Regions from separate parts of the Homo sapiens genome. Here all the other regions are linked to region 4. The links come from fine-mapping of genetic effects on gene expression. A gene starts in region 4. Each other region holds a variant in brackets. All regions are shown on one strand. Distances are between the middles of the regions.

What was found. PIP is the estimated chance that this variant, and not a neighbour inherited with it, causes the effect.
Region 1: its variant is fine-mapped to the expression of SLC22A23 in whole blood (INTERVAL, PIP above 0.99).
Region 2: its variant is fine-mapped to the expression of SLC22A23 in naive CD8 T cells (Schmiedel 2018, PIP 0.95).
Region 3: its variant is fine-mapped to the expression of SLC22A23 in whole blood (INTERVAL, PIP above 0.99).

Annotation. Positions count from the first base shown.
Region 1 is chr6:3,357,091-3,361,141 of GRCh38, forward strand. All of the region lies in intron 3 of SLC22A23 (solute carrier family 22 member 23), which reads right to left. Among named protein-coding and RNA genes, the nearest start is that of SLC22A23, 98 kb to the right of the region's middle. The variant G/T (reference allele first, on the strand shown) is at 1,611.
Region 2 is chr6:3,626,695-3,630,745 of GRCh38, forward strand. All of the region lies in intron 3 of LOC100507336 (a long non-coding RNA gene), which reads right to left. Among named protein-coding and RNA genes, the nearest start is that of PXDC1, 120 kb to the right of the region's middle. The variant T/A (reference allele first, on the strand shown) is at 2,054.
Region 3 is chr6:3,351,562-3,355,612 of GRCh38, forward strand. All of the region lies in intron 3 of SLC22A23 (solute carrier family 22 member 23), which reads right to left. Among named protein-coding and RNA genes, the nearest start is that of PSMG4, 95 kb to the left of the region's middle. RefSeq lists an enhancer at 1-462. The variant T/C (reference allele first, on the strand shown) is at 2,466.
Region 4 is chr6:3,454,669-3,458,719 of GRCh38, forward strand. SLC22A23 (solute carrier family 22 member 23) reads right to left here and starts at 2,382. Exons shown (of 10, transcript NM_015482.2): 1 at 1,238-2,382. The coding sequence starts at 1,891. LOC643327 (a long non-coding RNA gene) reads left to right here and starts at 1,035. Exons shown (of 2, transcript NR_147844.1): 1 at 1,035-1,583. RefSeq lists silencers at 2,150-2,379, 2,440-2,659.

The sequences.
Region 1 (4,051 bases), 98 kb before region 4:
ACAAGGCAGGCACTGTAATGAAATGCTCACATTTACTCCAGTGCCCACATCTGCATTCCCAGAGTCTCAGAAATCCAGCAGGATTCCAATGCCATGGAAATATGTATCATTGTTTTTGCCAAACAAACTCCCTTACCTTAAGCAAAGGTCAAGTACACTGTAAAACTCCCAGTGCAAACAACCAGCTGGAGGACTTATCCCAGCCTCTGTAAAGTCTTTGCTAATAATTATCCAGACAGCTTTCCTAATTTTTATTTTTAAATGGGGTTGTGGCTCAGCAATAGTGTAAGGATTAATCGCCTTATCAATTAGCATGAGGAAAGGACTGCAAATACAAAGTAGGTGTGTTCTTCCTGGCTTTCTACCTGCTCAATTAGGCTCAGGTCTTAAATGATTTCCAAAATTGGACTACATCTACTGTGTTTACTTCATTCTAAATATCAAAAAGATATCTAAAAGCTTATCATAAAAAAATTTAGAATTTCCCTTTTTGGTTACCAGCCTAAAAGCTCCTTAGTTTAGGGACTGTGTTCTTATTCAACAAGCCATGCCCAGCTCCTGGTTCACAGAACACACTGAATAATGACAAATAATGGAAAACAGAAGGCGGCTGTGTATAATGAATGCATTTCATTCACTTATTCAGCAAGGAGGATGAGGTAGCACCATGCCAGGGGAGATGCCGAGATGAAGCCACACCACCGGCCTCAAGGGGCTCACAGTCTGATGAAGAGACACGTGCCTATAAGACACAGATGGGGTTCTGTGCTACAGGAATGCAAAGAAAGGGACGAGGCCTGGGGAAGACTTCACCAAAGAAGCAGCATTTGAATCTTCCCTTAAGGGAAAAGGAAGTAGGACTGTCCTGCCATGTGGGTGAGGGGAAGGGAAGAGGCCTGGGAGGAGAGTTTTCAGAGAGGCAACCAGCTCTTGCAAAGGCGGCCAGTGCAGAAGAGGCTAGACAGGTTAGGTTCTCAGTATCAAAGTCCCCAGGATGGAGAGAAATTGGAACCTTTAAACACTGTTGGTAGGGATGCAAAAATGGTGCAGCCATTATGGAAAACAGTATGGCAGTTCCTCAAAAAACTAAAACTAGAACTGCCATATGATCCAGTGATTCTACTTCCAGGTACTTATCCAAAAGAATTGAAATTAGGATCTCAAAGCACTTGACGTGAGCGCTCCCACGTTCACTGCAGTGTTATCCACAACAGCCAAGATATGGAAACAACGCAGAGGTCCACTGATAGGTGAAGGGACACACGAAACACAGTGAAAAATACAATAGAATATGATTCCGCTTAAGAACGAATGAAATTCTGACACGTACGACACGTGGATGAACTTGGAGGAATTATGTTAAGTGAAATAAGCCAGTCACAGAAGGACAAATACTACATGATTCCACTTACATGAGGCATGTAAAAATAGGCAAATTCAGAAAATCAAAGAGTGGGCTGATGGTTGCCGGGGGTAGAGGGAGGGAGACATGGGGAGTTGCTCGTCAACTAGCATCAGCTTTCAGGCAGGCGAGATGAATAAGCTCTGGAACTCTGCTGCACACATTGTGTCTATAGTTCACGATACTGTGCTGTACACTGAAAAAACCT[G/T]TTAAGAGGGTGGGTCTCATGTTAGATGTTCTTACCACAAATAAAATTAAAAAATAAAATAAAAAAGGCCCCAGGAGAGTTTCTGTTTCATCAACCCAAGGAAAACACCGGAAGGAGTCACAGCTCCAGTGAGGAAGAAGTGAGAAGGGATCTGCCATCGGGGGCTGGAGGGATGGTGGGAACCTTTGCCATTTCAAAGGGAAGCCCTGGCTCCCCTCGGGCACAGCATCCTGGGTGGGGTCTGCACCCCGAGCTGCCACCCATTGCATTTCCATGTCAGCGCCATGTCAGGTGCGCTGTGCCGATGTCTAATCAAGTCTCAGTCATTCAGGATGAAGAGAGAATAGGGAATTCAAAATACATAACTGCAAAAATGAAAGCTCCTTTATTAATTTAGTGCAATACAGAGACGTCCCAGAACAACACGGGCTGCATCCAGAATCACAGATCATTTCAACTAAGAAAAAGATGGGCACCGAGAAGGAGAGCGAGGAACATGCCAGCTGAGACTCATTTCATTCTAGGACAGTACTAGAATGAGCATCTCACTGGGAATTCACCGCCCTCAGGCAGATAACAGATGCTGCTAAGCTATGCTAGCTGGTGTTGCCACGTTTATTCTTCATCACTGAGTGGTTCTCCTTAGGTCACACATATAACTATCCATCTGAGTGCAAGTTTAAAACAAAACAAAAACTGAAGAGGACATACAGATGGCCAAGAAGCACATGGAAAGATGCTCAACGTCACTGTCATCGGGGAAATGTACATCACAGCGACAATGTGGTAGCCCTTCACATCCATCAGGATGGTAGCTGCTGTCAAACAAACAGGAAATAACAAGTGCTGACAAGAATGTGGGGAAACTGGAACCCTGGTGCACCAGTACATTCCTGGTGGGAATGTACAACGGTGCAGCCAACTGGAGAAAACAATATCCCTGTTCTTCATAGAATTAAACAGAGGATTACCATCTGACTCAGCAATGCCACTTTTGGGTATAACCCCCCAAAAGTGAAAGCAAGGACCTGAAATGATATTTGCACACCTATGTTCACGGCAGCATATTCACAACAGCCAAAAGGTGGGAGCAACGCAGGTGTCCATCAACAGATGAATGGATAAGAAAATGTGATCCATCCAGAGGATGAAATATAACTCAGCCTTAAAAAGGGAGGCCATATCCAACATATGCTATAGTATAAAGGAAGCATTTTTTCTTTTTTTCTTATTTTCACTTATTTTTGTCCTTAGAGGTCCTTGTTCTGAGGGAATCCTGAAGACATTATGCTAAGTGAAGTAAGCCAGTCACAAAAGGACAAATATTGCATGATCCACTTAAATAGGTTCTTAGGTAGGCAAATTCATAGAAACAGAAAGTAGAAGGGTGGCTGCTCGGGACTAAGGGATGGGAATGGGGAGTGTTTATTGGGGACAGAGTTTGTTTGGGAAGATGAAAAGACCTCTAGAGATGAAGGGTGGTGATGGCTGTGTAAAAATGTGAATTACTTAATGCCACTGAATGGTACAATTAAAAGTAGTTAAAATGGTAATTTTTATGCTATGTTTATTTTACCATGATAAAACAAACACCCCCCTCCAAATAAAACAACAACAAAAAAGGCAAGTCCGTAGTATTGGCCTTTGAGAGCTCTGACCTCAGCTGTGCCCCGCCCACCCATCCACCCAAGGATCCTTAAACTCAGGAGGATCAGAAAGGCTCAATCACCAGGAGGTGAGGTGAGTCACAGAGCTCACTGCATTGCCATTCTTGGGGGCATTTGTCTCATCTGCCTTAAAATACAGAACTGCATTCTCATAGTCGGGTTTCAGGCAACGGCTCAACCGTGGAGGGAGGTCACTTTGGGGCCTTTGCACACATCCGAGTCAACCTCAACAGTCTTAGTCCACACATCTCTGTATTTCCGGTCACTTATTGCTATGCTGACTGCTCATCTAAGCCCCAGATACTGTCCCAGTTATTTAGGAGACAAAGAGGCCCTCAAGCTGGCCTGAGCCCCCAAGGGGTCCTCAGTGATGTCGACACGACAGGTGTGCAGGCACCCCCATGCAGACGGGCCCCTCTGATGGAGACCTGCGTTCGGCCAGGCAGGCCCACAGCTGGCGTGGTCATCCAGGGCGGGAACGGGATTGGACGAAGCCTTCCCTCGGGCAAAGATGCTGGGGTGGGGAACAGGTGCAGCAGGAACAGAAGGTCAGAGCGTGGTACTGGGGTGACGAGAGGCGCTAGCGAACATCAGCAGCTGCGGGGAGCTCGAGGCAGCAGGGATGTCCAGGCCACAGAAGGTGTCCCACATTTTATATTCCTGTTGTTTGTATATTTTCTATTTCTACCCACCCCCCCCATTTTATGCCTGACCCCAAGTTAAACTGCTTAAGGACTTAAGACCCCAACCAGCTGTGACTTAGATCAGGGTTTC
Region 2 (4,051 bases), 170 kb after region 4:
GGCATCTCCCTGGCAGGCGGGATGCGTCCCAGCTGAGTCTTCTGTCCTGACTCAGACCAAAGAGCCTTCTCCCTTGACAGGACATCCACTTATTCTGGCAGTTGGAAAATAAATTTTTTTTTCCATTGAATATGGGCATGTCCAGTGTGTGATAATGCTGGACCACCTTGTTCATACAATGCCTAGAGCCCTTAGTGTGGAATATATATAGATATAGATATAAAATATATATATATACATTTTTATTTATATAAAAATTTATATTTATATTTAAATATATATTTTATATATTATATATATTCCACACTAAAGGCTATATATATTATATATTTTATATATAATATAAATATTATATATAGAAATATATATTTTATATATTTATTATATATTTTATATACATATATATATATTTGACAGCAAATATACATATTTGAGACAAGTTGTGGCTCTGTCGCCCAGGCTGGAGTGCAGTAGCGCCATCTCGGCTCACTGCAACCTCTGCCTCCCGGGCACAAGCCATCCTCCCACCTCAGCTTCCCGAGTAGCTGAGACTACAGGCATGTACCACCACACCCGGCTGATTTTTGTAGTTTTTGTAGAGACAGGACTTTTCCATGTTGCCCAGGCTGGTCTCGAACTCATGAGCTCAAGCAGTCCACCCGCCTCAGCCTCCCAAAGTGTTGGGATGAAAGGCGTTAGTGCAGATTATGCTTTATGCTTCCTGAAAATTCTGTAAAACATAATGATTCCCTTTATACATTCTGCAGATTAAAAGAGTTAAACAAGAATAGCCCCATCTTTCCACTGCACTCCCATACTCCCTTGTATATGCATGTGTTGCAGACGTTCCCCTGGGCAGGGCGTGTAGAAGACTCAAGGGCCAATGAGGTTTTTGAGGAGCACGGATGCACCCTTCAGGGCTGTGTGAATGAAGGGGAGGAGTCGGTGAAGAAAACACCGGGAGAAGGTGGTGTCACCGTTGCCAAGCCAAGAGAGGGTTTTGTTGTTGGTGGTTATTTGCTTTTACAAGGAGGGGACACTGCCACAAGATGGTCATAGACTCAGGAGTCAGGCTGCCTGGTTTCTAATCCGCACTCTGTCATCTTGCACAAGTCACTTAGTCCCCATTAGCCTGTTTCCTCACGAGGGAAGGAGGAGAGTAAAAGGACCCATAATGCCAAAAAGATGTGGAGGAGACGCAAAGTGCTGCGAGGTGGGAGCTGTTGCACCTGGCCCCGGGAAGCACCCCTGAGGCTCCCCTTGCAGGCGGTGTTCTCAACAACCTCCAAAAGGCGGGAGGTGACAGGGACAAAACTCCCCATACTGTAACCTCGCTGTTCATGCACAAGCCAGGTCTCCGTAATTAGAACAGGAGTTTCAGGAGGACACAGACAAGGGGGCAGAGACAATGCCTTATTCATACATAATTGGCACTTAATAAATGTTTATGGAACACGTAGCTGAATAGATGAATGGATGAATAATTAATAACAAGGACGACTGCAGCTGAGTGTCGAGTTTTGTTCCCAAATTGGACGCACATGGAAATGAAAGGAGATCTTCATTTGTGTGGTGATTATCTAAGTATTTGTCCTCTCCCGCTGAGGGTTCCAGGAAGCAGGTTGCAGAGGGCAACAGGAACAATGCCACACCTGTATTCCACGGAGGAGGGATGTTCAGGTGTTAGAAAAAGAACCACAGGCAGAGGTCACGCATTCAAAACCAGGAAAAGGGCCAGCGAGGCTTTGCTTTGGCAATGCCAATTATACTTTTTTAGTCCAGAAATATTTAGAGAAGGATTCCCGCATTGTGCTTTTAAAGTCATTTGTTATTAGCGTCACAGAAGTAAAAATATCTACTGGGACATCTGCCCAAACTCCAAAAGACAGGGCTGAGGAGACAATGTGAGTGGGTGTGACTGTGGTTACGTTGAGTAGCTGTATGCTGTACCCGCTGCCACTCAAGCCCCACCAGCAGAGGTGCCCCCAGCTTAATAGCACAGAGAAACCGTTCTTTTCAAAGGGGCCGGGGTTGCTGAGCAGTTTCCTGCCTT[T/A]TATTTAAAGCTTGATTTCCTTTGTAAAAAGCGGTGCATAGGCCAAGAGTGCCTACGATGTATTTTTATTTTTAAATCTTGAACATTTCAAGTTGCATACAAAAGAGGGAGGTTAGAAGGAAGGTGAGGATAGGCAAGGGAGAAACACAGAGTCATGGATGGGCTTGCCAGCGCTGGAAAAGATGATTTAATGAAAGGACCATTAAATGGCAGCCTGGGCTGGTGTCTCTGAGAGTGGAGCCAGGCTGTCTTCCTCATCCAAGCGAGTGCAGTGAGATTCCTGGTATTCCACTTGTAGTTCCCACACACGTCTCATTTCCAAGCACCAGCAGCAGACAGTAGAGAGGAGCTGCCGTTAACATCCCTGTCTCGGAGAGGTGGGTAGGGGGACGCTATCTCTTTCTCAGAGATGCTGGAGAATGACTTGCCTAATTGCCTGCAATATCACTTTCCTGAAACCTATTTCTGATTGCCAAGGGCCTTAGCAAACGGGGGTTCCCACCAGCACTCCCTCACACGTCTTGCGATGTATTAGTACTCGATTTACCCCTTCAGTAAGGTCAATGCAGGTTCTTAAAACAGAGATGATTAAACACAACTGAATCTACTAATTTTTATTTTGCCGTGACAGTGCAGTCCCTTTTAATTTTTACCCGGGCACCTGTGAGTTATTTAGGAAATTTTTGAAATGCCACCTTGTATGAGAGAAGCTACTTAGGTGTTTCAGCATCTCTTCAGAAGCCACCGTGGAACTTTCCAAGAATAAATTAACACATGCATATATTTTCTCTTCCATAAAGATAAAATGCAAATGAAGAAAATCCAATTCAAATTAGTTTAGGCAAAAGAGCAAGTTAATGACTCTTGCTATCAAGGACAGACATAGAGTTAGCTTCAGGGATGACTGGATCCAGGATTCAGATGTCCCAGGCTCCCCTCTCTCCCTCTCCTTTGTGCTTCTCTCTATATTGTAACCCATCCCAGTTCCACTCTAAAAATTCTAGAAATGGGCCGGGCACGGTGGCTCATGCCTGTAATCCCAGCACTTTGGGAGGCCGAGGCAGGCAGATCACGAGGTCAGGAGATCGAGATCATCCTGGCTAAGATGGTGAAACCCCGTCTCTACTAAAAACACACACACAAAAAAATAGCCTGGCATGGTGGCGGGCACCTGTAGTCCCAGCTACTCAGGAGGCTGAGGCAGGAGAATGGCGTGAACCCAGGAAGCAGAGCTTGCAGTGAGTGGAGATCGCGCCACTGCACCCCAGCCTGGGCGACAGAGCGAGACTCCGACTCAAAAAAAAAAAAATTCTAGAAATGGACCTTTGCCACCTGGGATCAGAAGCCCACCCCTCAGTTAATCACTAAACCATGGAGGCGATGTGAGAAGATGGTGTCTGCTACCCCTATCATAACACAGAGGAGAGGAAAGCCTAAGAGGAGAAAAGTGCAGGGCAGACAGAGGAATAATTGTCTTGTAGTACCCACATCTCTCCATTCTGCATTTTTGATGTTTTGACATGTTGGGGCTTTGCTGACCCTAGAGGGACTGTTCCCCACTCCACCCCAGGACTAGCTAATCTGTGGAGATGGCAAACAATTACACTACTAACACACCTTTCACATACAAACCAGCTAATCCCAAATCCACGCCTCCAACCAACTCCCTTATCAGGACCTCACACTCAGGGCCAGTATTTGCCTGCCCTGAGCCCCCAGGGCCATTAACCAGGGACAGCCCCTATGGCCCAGAGCTCTGAAATTATTCAGCCTGGCCCCATTCCTAAGCCCATGCACCCTGCCTCCCTGTTCCTCCCTGCAGAAACCACAATAAAAGCTTTTGCCCAGGATTTCCTCTGCTCTGTCTGCCCCCTGACCAGCCTTGGTGCTTCCTCATGTGGCCCTGCATGGCAGGCTGTGTTTCCTGTTTCTAGGGATCTGTGAGCAGAACAAACTTATTCATGGGAATCATCTCTATGTCTGTGTGTGTTACAAATG
Region 3 (4,051 bases), 100 kb before region 4:
CTCAGTCAACAGCCCTCTCTGTGGCTTCCCGCCCACCCCTCCCACTGCTCTGGAAACCTCTCTCCCCTCGACCTTTCCTGGCTTTCGCCTAAGAACACGTCACTGGCCACTTCAAAGATTCTGTAACCCATCTCCTCCCCCAGCCACACTGTACCACAGGGTGGGCCCTATGGAGCCATATTTCTGCTATTTGGTATCAAAACTGTCCCCGAGGAGACTTGCTACTTCATTCAGGACTGAGCCAGGAAACCCAGGTTTCTAATGCATTCTCATCAAATGTACATGACCCCCAGGTGAGCAGGAGGATGGGCAGCAGGGCCAAGGCCTGAGCTGCTGCAGTCATGGGGACCACCTCGAGGCAGATGGAGTTCCCATCTAGGCCACACCAAACAGGAGAGCAGGGAGGGATGCTCTGGGTGGATGACTGTCCACCACCCGACTGGTAAGGCTGCTCCGTTTCTGAAATGGGCGTCAAGGCGAAAGCACTCCATGGCCTCCCCTCCCCAGGCAGGGCTGCTGGAGTGCTGAGAGGTGGCAGAGGCCATGGCAAAACCAGGCCCACCAGGACCACAGATAAGGAAGGGAGGAACAGGGCAGGTTGTGGAAGGAGATGTGAGAGTGCCTCTTGTCCTGCTGCTCTGACAGTGAAAACCACGTACACGGACATGTACAGACACACAGACACTCACAAACATACACACACAGACATGCACACACACACACACACACAGCCATAGACACTTACAAGCATGCACACACAGACATGCACAGACACACACACACACAGCCACAAACACAAGCACATACAGACATGCACAGACACACTCACACACAGACACAGCCACAGAAGCTCACCGGCATGCATGCACAGACACACACAGACACATATTGACCCATTCACATACACGGCCACATACACACATAGGCATACTTGCAGACACACAAATACACAGACAGAGAGAAAGAGAGCAGGTGAGCACACACCAAGCCCCGGCCATAACAAAAGGGAGAAAAGGCTCTGATCTCTGCCATTCTTGTTTTTCCATCTGAAAATGAGAAACCTGCTACTGGGACTCACCTGAATCATGGAAAATGGACTCACTTGAGTCCTTAAATCATACTCTCACAGCATATGAAAACTGCCAAGCTTCCTGGAGGTCTGAGGATAAATGGTGTCGCTTACAGGTGTTCAAAAAGCAGAGAAATGACAATTCTTTAATTAATCTGAGTGAAGGAAAAGCACATAGTGCAAACCCAGAGCCAACAGCAGTTTAGAGACGCTCCCTGGATACGCATGGACAAGCCGCGTGCCCTGCAAACACCCGGGAGAAGATCAGTCGCCCCCGTGACCTGCACCTTGCTACCAGAACCCCCAGTGGTCAGCTTGTCCCAACAGGACTTTGTTGCTGAGGAACAGGGTCAAAATATGTATGAAAATACTACAGTGATTATATTCATTTTTTGCCTGAAATTTTAAGTAAGACTTTTTACCCTGTTCTTCAGCAACGACCAGACCGTGTCAAGAGATGCAAAGTCTCACCTGTGAGTGCTCCGCCTAATCTAAAATTACATGTAAGTATTATTACTTCCCTGCTCACAGGAATAATCTGTTATTCTTGGAGATTTTGAAGGCAAGATGGCAAAGGGCCATAAAAGGCACATAACTGTGGGCCTTTACCTGGCTGCTTAAACCAAAACCTGGTTTTCCAGCATTTGAACAAAAAAAGGGAAACTCCGTCTGTGTTAGATTTCCTATACCACAGCCAGCTCCCCAATGAAGAGGTGCTGCCTGATTCTCCCAGCTGCCAATCTTGCCCTCTTCTACAGCATTTTAGTTAAAATAACTTCCTGTGTCTCAACATCTGGCTTGAGCGGTTTGGCTTCAGGCCTGAATCCCACTCAATGGGAAATGCCGTGACCCTCATGCTGGGATTCACGATGTCACCTGCTTGATTGAGGTGTTCATTATGCTTTACAAAATCACATGTATAAGACTATTAGGAAAACAGTTCAGCTGCAAATCACAAGACTAGGGCTACTGGAATTTTTGCTCCCAAATCACTAGATCAGTCAACCACTGCCTTTCCAGGTAAAGGGCTGTGCTCGCCTCGTCCCATTACCGAAGCTGTGATGTGGCTCTTCTGCCCTGTGCACTGCCACCCAAATGTACTCACGTGATTTCTGGCTTCCAGGGCTGCTGTTCCCAAGAGCTCCCTCCTCAGGAAGCCACACCATTCCCCCACCTTCTTAGTAGAGGCAGACTCTCCCTTCTACCACCAGTGTTTCCCAGGACCCCAGTTCTGGCCCAGAGCATGACAGCATCGAGGAAGCCTCATGCAGAGGCTCCTTACAGATCCCAGACTACCAACTTTTCCAGGTCTCCTATGCGTGGGCTGCTTTACTTTCTCTAAGAAGGCACAAGGAAAAATGCTGGTCCTTGGGTCGGTTGACTGAATCCTTTGATG[T/C]GACAGGTAGCTAAGCCACTTATCTGGACCCATAAACCTCCTTGGCAGGCCTGATTGGATTGTGGAAATTTCGATGGTGATCACATGTGTTTTCTCCTTAGAGTTGGCATGGCCAAGACAAGAGCCACATGCAACTTCTAAGCAAAACACACACACAGGCTCACACAAACACATAGCATGGTGCACTCCCAACGGAGAGGCAGTCAGGGCATTGGATGGGCAAAGACACTCCTTTCAGGACCCTTCAAAGGTAAATTCAACAGGAAGTGCACATTTACGGAGGAGCAAGTGACTAAAGGCACTCACAGACTTTTCCTTCTCTTGACTTGTGTACCTTTACATCTTTACATGAGGTGGGTTGGGTAAACAAAAGAAAATCTCAAGAAGATTCAGATTCTCTTTCCATGTCCCTGCTGCATTTAATAAGTTCCTCGATTGTAGTGACCACTGTACTGTGGTCAGATCCATCGATATAGCAGAGACTCTGTGCCTCAAAGGCAAGGCAATGTCTTTCCATCCTCAAGAGACCCAGCATCCAGCAGGCACTCAAGAAAGGATGGGTGAACCATTTATTAGTGGGTAAAGCAATGGATGAACTGAAACACAGTCTGTTTTTAGTTGATGTCCCAGTAAGAGTGTTAGGGGGAAGTCAAGGTGTTGGAGGGGTTGCTCTAGATTTCAATGATCCACACCATCTCTAATTTCTTACTAATTAATCAAATAGTGAATGTCTAACAAATGGGGAAGGTACTATGCTGGGCCAAGTAGCCATGTAATGGGTTTCTGAATCTCATAATTCAACATCATCTTCTTCAACTGACACTTGTCTTTCCAGGTCAATTAAGCAGGCAGCCTCATTAGTTCATGGGTAGACAACACGCAGAACAGACAAAGCAGGACCTGAGGGCCAGAGGGTGACAGTATCTAACTCTGCCCCTAAAAGCACAAGGCATTTGGACAATTTGTGCTACACTCTTTCCTTTAAACAGGCAACAGGAAAAACAATAAAAGATATTCCTACTACCGAGTTTATAAAAACACAAACAAAAAAAACCAGCGCCTCTCCACATGGCAGTATTCAAATCCTTATCTTTGGGCTCCTACCCTCTATCTGCTTGGAAACAGCTCCCTGTCTTTGTGGCCGCCACCCTCCCCAGCTAAAAAAAAAAAAGTCTCCCTCCAAATACTATCCAGTAGCTCTTCAAATAAAATGGGATGAATAGAGAGGCCTTGATAACCACCAGTTTTCTCATCTTCAAACTGGAAATCAGAAATAATATCAGTAAAGACATCGACTTATTAGGTACAGTGAGAAGCCTTTGAACTTAAAAGACGGGAGGAAGACAAGCATGCTGCTCGTGGGTTCGTCACACCCTGTTCTATGCAACAAAGCAACCCTCCCTGGGTCGAGAAAAAAAATCTCCATGATGATCTCTTAGAAATATAAATGTATTTATAGATAGATATTTTCCCTCTTACCATGTGTATAAGAGAACAGGACGTTGCTGGGCAGAGGGAAGTTATTGTGTGAAGGCCAAGGTCATAACAAGGTTACCGTTCTCATGAGTCTGGGCTAGGTCTGGGCC
Region 4 (4,051 bases):
TAGAAGGACCTTCCCCATTACCTTGCAGGGCAGCAGGGGCAGCTCAGTCAGACAGTTCCCACAGGACAGAGCATTTCTGGCCAGGTTGGTACAAGATTAAAACAATGATTATGATGATGTAAGAGTTTATCTTACACATCCATGAGCTACAACTGTTAACCAATGCACACGGGGGGAGGAGGTTACATGCACATTGACTATTTAAAACTGTCCAATTTCATACATTTCGACAAAGCATTTAAAACTCTGCCAGAACAGCCCAGAATGGGTAGCGGGTGGGGTGGAGGAGAGTCTGTATTTACTTTAAAATGTGAATTAATTAGTTTAGACACAAGGAGCAAAACTACAAATGTCTTGATATCTCTTATATGTTAAGAATAAAATTACAGCTGTCTAGGGGCATTGAGTGTCCACCATTGCCCACTCTGTGTTTAGGCCTTCACACTTGTCTCACAACTCCCTTCTGCTACATTTCACACCACGCAATACCTCTGCAAGGGAGCTTTAGCTACAGGACTCAGAGGACAAGGTGCATGTTTCAGCTAAAGCACACCCCCGTTCTCAGTGCCTCAGCCCAAAGCAGCTGCTGTGTAAGAGCGGTGACGGCCGGGGAACACCCAAATGACATATTCTCCGCGTCCTTCCTATACTGTAGTGATGTTTACTGAAGTGCTGAGAAAACATGGGAGGAGACACTGGGGTAGCAAAGCCTAAAGTCAGATATCTTTGGGGAGGACTAAGCATCGGCTGCGGGTTGGGGATTTGCAGGAGTCTTTGCTTCTCTGGCTCTCCAGTTCTTTAGTAGGCTTTACCTGTGTCAAAATCAAGTGCGAGATGGAAGACTATTGCTTTGTGGGAGACCCAGGGACAACTAGCCGGGCAGAACAGGGCTGTGGTCCCGACTCCCCCAGCAGACCTTGAACGACGCCAGTCCGACTCCTCCAGAGGGGGCTGGTGACAGGTCAGCTGCCTCGCCCCGAGGGTGGGGGAAGGGCGCGCTTTCCATCCGCGTACTGGGACAGGAGTTTGGGTGCAAACTAGTAAAGGCTATGGTGCTCCCTTTACACCCAAGTAAAGGCATGTGGTTTGGGGGACGGAAGGAGATTAAGCCAATGCGGAATGCCCTACACACACTCTAGCACCACCACTTTGGGGACTTCGGTTCTCCCGCTGGCTCGGGCTTGGACCTCGGTCTGCAGGGAGAGGGTTGGAGGGACTGGGCGGCTGCGGCCCTTACCTTGCTGACCACGTTCTGGACGAGGCCGGCGCGGATGCCGTAGTCCCATGCGCGGCAGTCACAGTTGGAGGCGTTGTCCCCCTTGTCCGGAGGGGATGGCAGGGGTGGTGTGTCGCCTCCGTCCGCGCCGCTGCTGTTGCTCCGGTTGCCCGCAGCCTCCCAGGGGGCAGTGGCGAAGGGGGTGGTGGGGAGGCTGGTCCAGTTGCCCATGTCCCCGCCCCGGCCTGTGGTGGTGACCCCTGCCAGCTCGGTGCCTTTGCCGGCCCCGCGGCACCAGAAGTTGGGCTGGTCCAGGAGGAACGAGTCCGAGAACTGGCTGAAGCCGATGAACAGCGCCGGGATCCAGGTGAGCAGCACGAGGGTCTTCTGATAGCCCCCGCCCAGGCCCCCGAGGAAGGGCAGCACCGACCCGTCATAGTCCAGCAACAAGAGGCTCGGGGCCGCAGCCGCGGAGCAGCAGCTCGGGTGCGGGCCGCCTCCAGGATGCAGTGGGGGCAGCGGCTGGATCTCCGCGCCGCCGCCGGGGCCCGCGCGTCCCCCGAGGGGCGCCGAGGCCGCCGCGTCCCCGGGCGGCAGGGAGCCGTTCTCCTCGGCCGGGGCCGGCTGCCGCCCAGGCCCGCCGCCCGCCGCCTCGCGCCGCCGGTCTATGGCCATGGCCCGGGCCCGCGGCTCCCGCAGAGGCGCATAGAGCGCGGCGGAGGCTCCGCGGGCGCCCCGGGCACAGCGCGCCGGGCCAGGCGCCTGCAGCCGCTGCCGCCGAGGAGGGCCCGCGGCTCGAGAGAGAGCGCTCGGCGGCTCCGGGTGCGTCAGGCCGCCCCCATGTCACCCGCCGGACCCCGCGCCCCGGGCGCTGCGGCCCCGCTCGGGCGCCGGGCAGAGGCGGGCAGAGGCCGGCCGGGCCCTCAGCCGCCGCGGCTCATCAGTTCCGCGGCCCGGGCGCCGGCTGCCGAGCCCGCCGCTCTCCGCTGCTCCGCGCCGGACGCGGCAGGAGGAGGAGCCGGCGCCGCGCCCGGCCCGCGCCCTTGCCGGCGGTTCAGGGCCCTGCGGGCGGCGGTGCGGGCAAAGGCTGCTGCTCCCGGGGTGGCCGCGCTGTATTTCTCCGACTTCGGGCGCCTCCCGGAAGCCGCGAGCTCTGGACCCAGCCTGCCGAGCCGGCCGCGCTCTCCAGCTCCTGGAGCCGGCCCCACTCCTCCTCCTCCTCCTCCTCCTCCCCCTCCTCCCTGCCCCCCGGCCCGCCCCCTCTCCCCCCGCCGAGGTGGAGGTAACCGCGGCACCTGCTGCGCTCGGCTCCTGCTCGCGAGCGCCCCCTCCAGCCCGGACGCGCGGCCGCCGCCGCCCGGGATCCACGGGAGGGGGGCGGGGGAAACGGGACACCCCGGGCCCGCCTGGCTGGAGGATCCCCTGCCCGTTGCCCGTTTCGCGCCGGGCGGGGCGGGGGAGGAGGAGACGCGCGTAGCAGGGGTCGCCGGCCGGCGACGGGTCCCGGCAAAGTCGGCGTGCGCTGAGAACGTGTGGGCCGGGTCTTCTCTGAGGCTGGGCTCCCGCAGCCGCGCGGGCCCCCCACCCACTCCGCGCGCGCCAGGTCTCCGTGACCTCTGTCTCTTCAGAGGTGCCCGGCGGTCCCGCTGCCCGCGCCCCGCTCCCAGTCCCAAGCCCGAGGGTCTTCAGCCTTCGGGAACAACCCTCTGCGCTTTTTCCAGGAGCGAATAAGGTTGATTTTTGTGTCCGTGGAGCAGGGTCAAGGAGGCGCCTTTGCCAATTTCAGGTCGCCAGTCCCCCGCAGTGTCTGGCCACCTGCGACCCGCCGCACCCACTCCCAAATCGCCATTTCTTCCCCCACTCCTAAGTGCATGCGATGTAAGCACGATGCTGGGATATATCTCCAACACAAGTTATAATACACACAGTATAAACGTGATGGCATTCCCCACCCCCTCCCTAAGATCTTGTATTCACGTTTGGAACGCCGTGTGCACAGGCGCACACATCTATACTCTCACACAAGAAGACAAACCTCTCCCTCCTCTCCTGCTCCAGCGCCAACCTTGCCCAGCCAGCGCTGTATAAATAACACCAGCCCTGCGGCAAACGGCTACATTAGCATATTTCCTCCTGCACCCAGCGCACGCACCAAAGAGAATTATCCGGCACCTTTCAACCCAGCGTCCCCACATTTTGGAGGCATTTCATATTCTGAGAAGTTTATTAATGGAAGTCTTAAATGGAGCAATCCATTTCTAGTCTTATTTGGGGCAAAAAAAAAAAAAATGTTTAGCTTTCCAAAAGGATATATTCTAAGCTCCATATACTGAATGTATTCTTTTGCATTTTCATTATTTGCTCAGCTAACCGCTGCACAATTTAGTGGAATACATTTTTAACCTGCAGTTCAGTGTTAAGGGCAACATGTGTTTACTGCATAAAATGCTGGCACATACGTACCAGAGAACTATTTCTGAAGGCTGCCGGGGGGCGGGTCTTGGGGGACAGGGGAGGTTGTGGACCTTCCTGCGTGGCCGAGAAGGGGTGATTAGATAACAATGGGCGGAAGGGGCCCTAAGGGCTGCAAAAGACACCAGACCGCTGAGAAATGGGTCTGGAAACCACATATATAAAGAGCTGGGGGCTTGGGGCGGGGGGGGACACGATAGTGCACGTTGTGTACGTGGTAATTTTTCAACTTCACATTATTTATTAGCTTAACTTTTCTTTTCCTTCCCTCTCCTCCCCTCATTTGAAGAGCTAATACATGCAAAGTTCTGACCTCCATGCCTGGAACAGAGTAAGTGCGCAATGAATGTTAGACATGTATTA